Linked DNA regions of Homo sapiens: region 1 is linked to region 2. The links come from fine-mapping of genetic effects on gene expression. Tissue or cell type: skeletal muscle. Region 2 holds a variant in brackets; the other region holds the start of a gene. All regions are shown on one strand. Distances are from middle to middle.

The links. PIP is the estimated chance that this variant, and not a neighbour inherited with it, causes the effect.
Region 1: DPY19L4 starts here. The variant in region 2 is fine-mapped to the expression of DPY19L4 in skeletal muscle (GTEx, PIP 0.96).

The regions. Positions count from the first base shown.
Region 1 is chr8:94,718,443-94,721,127 of GRCh38, reverse strand. It overlaps DPY19L4 (dpy-19 like 4), which reads right to left and starts at 1,228. Exons shown (of 19, transcript NM_181787.3): 1 at 1,114-1,228. The coding sequence starts at 1,129. RefSeq lists a silencer at 1,101-1,420 and an enhancer at 1,181-2,135.
Region 2 is chr8:94,661,638-94,664,322 of GRCh38, reverse strand. It overlaps ESRP1 (epithelial splicing regulatory protein 1), which reads right to left. Exons shown (of 16, transcript NM_017697.4): 5 at 1,953-2,051; 6 at 1,768-1,822. Among named protein-coding and RNA genes, the nearest start is that of ESRP1, 22 kb to the right of the region's middle. The variant C/G (reference allele first, on the strand shown) is at 1,621.

The DNA.
Region 1 (2,685 bases), 57 kb before region 2:
CTCAAAATATAACATTAACCGGGCGTGATGGCGCATGCCTGTAATCCCAGCTACTAGGGAGGCTGAGGCAGGAGAATCGCTTGAATCCAGGAAGCGGAGGTTGCGGTGAACCGAGATCGCGCCTTTGCACTCTAGACTGGGCAACAAGAACGAAACTCCGTTTCAAAAAAAAAAAAGGCAGGGGGGCTTGAGTCTAAATTAGATCGATTTACTATCACATCCACAGCTCCACTCATAAGGTAAAAAGTTGTGTTTTCCACCAGAATGCAAAAATCTAATTGCTTCTCACTTCCTGAAACTAGTAGGGGTTATCATGAAGTTACTATGCCATGAGTATTCCTTGTATTGTTTATCACTAACCGATAAGTTTCATCTAACTTCCCATTTTTGTCTCATACTTATCATTTTCTATAAATAAAATACTGCTGAATGAATTACTTATCTTAGCATTGATCCTGAAGGCGGCATGGAAACCTTTCTCCAGCTCACCCACTTTGACCCTCAAAGGCCTCCTGGCCTCATCATCTCCCAAAACTATAATAATTAGATGGCTCTGCTCTTTACCATTTTCCCCTGAACCTAAGTGAACTTGGCTTTCTTCAGTTTCTGCGTGTTCGCCCATTCCCAATTAATCTTGCCACGTTTATCCCAAATCCCTGCCTCTTTATCCCCGTGGTGAATGTTCCCTCGCCCCCTGTGCCTCTGGGTTTGTCAATATCCACAGCCCTTTAAAAATCGCATTCCAAATATGCACTGAGTACCTAAACCTGATCTTCGAAACCAAACTGCGCCTCCCACTTCACCAAGAATCTGATCAGGACCCTCCCTCTTTCCCAACCACTCCCGGCACAGCTTTCTCTCTTGCTACGGATTCCCAACTTTCAGCTCCACCTTTGCTTCCCAATTCGGCCGACAAAACTTCGGGCCATTTGCTCCGCTCTCCTGAATTTCTCCGCAGTCCTCTCCTGGGCGCCGCGCTCCTTCCCGCCCTGCCCGCGCGGCCGCCACCGCGACCGCGGCCACCAGCAGCTCCAACCCAGACCTCCAGCGCCCCCGCCCCTCCTTCCCGAGACCACTGGCAGCCGTTGGCGCGCTGGACCCCGCGGCAATCACCTTCTTCCTCCGCCATCGTTTCTGCGAAGGCTAGGGCGCCCTGCGGCTCCCGCGCGGCCCAGACTCTCCCTCCCTCCGCGTCGCCGAACCCCTCGGCCTCCGGGGGCCCGCTCCTGGCCGCCGCGCCCCCACTTCCTGACCCACCCCCCTCCGGTGTCGCCGCCAACCGCGTCCCCGCAGGCGGCCCGGGAACCAGAGTGTTGGGAGAGGGGAGCGGCCGGAGCGTTTCGCTGGGGCGCCGGGGCCTGCGCGGGCAGGAAGGAGACTCCACGCCGGGAGTGCAGCCCACAGCTGTAGCTCCTGGCCGCCGCCTGCCCTGGAAAGCGAGACTGGTGGGTCTCGCTGCAGCCCCGCCCCTCGTCCTACTCTTCCCAAAAAGTGAGGGCATGCTTTCCGCCACTTTTGTGACTCCGCGACTTAGCGAGTCAGAGACGATCATCAGCGACACCTCCCAGGTCCAGCCTCCATTCCCGCCCCATTTTACATGGAGGAAACTCAGATCTAATGTGGTGGAAGTCACAAAGCCGGTCAGAGGCAGAAGTGGAACCCGGTGCTCCAGAACTGCCATCGCTGCCTGCGTTCTCGCTGGGATTTCAGAGTGCAGCAGCAAAACGTTCTCAGTTGGCGCTTTGGTTTCGTAGGCCACTTGACCATTACAAGAAAGAAGCTTGTGCTTGGAACTTGTTTTAAATCACCAAAACTGGTTTAGCAAATATGTTGCATTTCATGATATTCTGGGGGGGGGGGCGGGGAGATAATACAATGGTCTGGGGTAGAGCAGTGTGCAATTAGATATTACAGAGCAATAGGGAATAATTTTAATTTGTTAAACTGTGTTTAACTTTCATTATATCTAGCATTCTTCAACAAACACCGGGATCTTTTCCCCAACAGTACTCAGAAGTAAATTTAGTAAATGAAATATACCCATTTTAGATCGGGAGAAACAGGCACGAGAATTCACTGAAGTCATGGGGTAATTATGGACACCCCATTATTAGCAGGCAGCAAGATTCTCCTAATAGCACCTTTAAGTTAGGATATTTGGGGAGAGGCTATCATTTTTCAGTGATGTGCAGAAACGGTTCCAGGAACTTTTTTTTTTTTTTTTTGAGACAGAGTCTCGCTCTGTCGCCCAGGCTGGAATGCAATGACTCGATCTAGGTTCACTGCAACCTCCGCCTCCCAGGTTAAAGCGATTTTCGTGCCTCGGCCTTCCCAGTAGCTGGGACTACAGGCGCAAGCCACCACTTAATTTTCATATTTTTAGTAGAGATGGGATTTCACCATGTTGGTTGGCCAGGCTAGTCTCCAACTCCTGGCCTCAAGTGATCCGCCCACCTTGGCCCCCCGAAGTGCTGGGTTTACAGGTGCCCACCACCACGCCCGGATAATTTTTTGTACTTTTAGTAGAGAAGTGGAGGGGTGTGGTTTCACCATGTTGCCCAGGCTGGTCTTGAAATCCTGACCTCAAGTGATCCACCGGCCTCAGCCCCACAAAGTGCTGGGATTACAGGCATGAGCTACCACGCAGGGCCTCCAGGAACTCTTTTTATGTCTGGTTCCCCGTAA
Region 2 (2,685 bases):
GTAAAACCCCGTCTCTACTAAAATTACAGAAATTAGCCGGGCATGGTGGTGTACGCTTATAATCCCAGTTACTTGGGAGGCCAAGGCAGGAAAATCACTTGAACCTGGGAGGTGGAGGCTGCAGTGAGCTGAGATTGTGCCACTGCACTCCAGCCTGGGCAATAGAGCAAGACTCCCTCTCAAAAAAAAAAAAAAAAAAAAAGCTGAGGAAATGTTTGCTTGGCACCCTCATGTCCTGAAAGTTCCTAGAACCCCAAAAGATAGGTTTGAATTCATTCTCAAATCTAGACAGTATACATGTGGGGTTTAAATCCAGTTTAGCAGCCGAATTTAGGATCAGAATAAAGCTGACAATTAACCCACATGAGGAATGTGTGTGCATGGTAGGAAGTCTGCCATTAAAATATCCCCCAGATCAAACCAGGGAGCCATCCCAGAGAATGTCCATAGAAATGCCTGTGAGTCCCTACACCTTAATGACTCATTTGCAAATCACTTATTATATATTTTGACACCTTTTGATGTCTTATCCCTCCCACGTTCACATTTTCAGTTCTCCTAGGACATTTTCTTAATAAGTCACTTTCTCCACAACTAATCGGCCTCAAAGTCTCTCTCTATGGGCAAAGCTGTCAGAAGTTTCTATTCACTTCAGAGACCAAGCACACACTCAATTCATTAGAGTGATTTACAAACAGGTCTACCTGCGATCACTAACAGACACCACTTCATACTTCTCCCCAGCTATTTCCTTGGCTTTAAAGTAGAAACCTATATAGCCAGGCACAATGGCTCACACCTGTAATCCCAGCACTTTGGGATGTCAAGGTGGGTAGATCACATGAGGCCAGGAGTTTGAGACCAGCCTGGTCAACACGGCAAAACCCCATCTCTACTAAAAATACAAAACTTAGCCAGGCATGATGGTACACATCTGTAATCCCAGCTACTGGGAAGGCTGAGGCACAAGAATCGCTTGAACCCGGGAGGCGGAGGTTGCAGTGAGCAGAGATCACACCGCGATATTCCAGCTGGGCAACAGAGCAAGTGTCTCAAAACTAAAATAAATAAATAAATAAATGTACTTATAGAATGTACGTAAAATTTTATCTCAGTAAAAATTGTGAACTCTATTAAAGCCTACAATTTCTCCTTTGGAAATTTTCTAAATGAAAGATCGGATAGTTTGGGGAGACCAAAATAACAATCACAGATATGAGCATATAATATACTTAAGGTCAGGGTGACTAAAGATGCCAGTAAGTCATTACATTTTATTCCCAATATCAAGCTCTAAGTAATACAACCTTCTTTTACAGATGACCGAACAGCAAGAAAGGATAGCTAAAAGGATTAGTAAAGTTTCTCAAATATAACAAGAATTAAGAGGCACAATATGAACAAAAACAAGTTAAAGGCCGGGCGAGGTGGCTCACGCCTGTAATCCCAGCACTTTGGGAGGCGAGGCGGGCAGATCACGAGGTCAGGAGATTGAGACCATCCTGGCTAATATGGTGAAACCCCATCTCTACTAAAACTACAAAAAAATTAGCCAGGTATGGTAGCGGGAGCCTGTAGTCCCAGCTACTCGGGAGGCTGAGGCAGGAGAATGGCATGAAC[C/G]CGGGAGGCGGAGCTTGCAGTGAGCTGAGATCGTGCCACTGCACTCCAGCCTGGGCGACAGAGCAAGACTCTGTCTCAAAAACAAACAAACAGACAAAAAAAAAAAACAAGTTAAAAAGCTCAAATAAATAGTACTCAAGCACTTACCAAGTTCCACTTTCAAACTTGTAATTCACTCTCTCTGGATCTGAAAACCTGTGATCTAAAAATGAGAACATAAAAGTCATCATTTTAGTGATTAGGGAGACAAAGTTGTAGGAGGAAATTTGAGTATAGGTAAGAGAAAAATAGTATGAATTCTGGGACTGCACTACTATAAAAGCAATACTTACTATAAGGCTCTGAAATCATTGCTAAAATTATATTCCCCATATCTTCAACTTGAGAGGCTCCATATCGAGAGACTGAACTACTCTTCTCAAAATTTAAATCTGTGAGATTAAATTAAGGAAACACTTTGGAAAGGTAAAATCAGGTTACTTCTAAATCAAAATTAAACCTATACCAAGCCAAGAGGAAGAAGATGGATCTAGCTGAGCTTCCTTTAGAAATCTCAGAATGGCTGCCTCCCATCAGTCAGTCATTCAACTTAGGCTCCAACTGCCCTTTTGGGTAAAAGAGGCAAATCAATCCAGTGCTGAGATATTACCAGGAATACAATTTTTATTTACCCAGTTGTAGCAAATGAATACTGAGCATTTTCATTTCATTTTGAATCAAAGTATGCAACAAAGTTAATTAGAATATTTCATCCTCTGAATCTTTACAGCACACACAAGGCAATGACCATGCCGACTTCATGATATGGTGACATTATCAACACTACAAGGTATTAAATGACTTTTTTTTTGGCCTAATGTTTGAAATGGACACCACAGATTATTGATGTGACATTACTTCCACAATGCCACTTTTGCTTAGAAATTCTATTATAGAACACTTTTGGAGCCCTGTAGGATAGTCCACCTTTGATGACAGCAGATGCTAGTTCTAGACAGCAAATTTTGGAAACAATTCAAGCACTCAGAGCCAACACAGGCCAATGTGCTTCTTTACCAAAAGTAT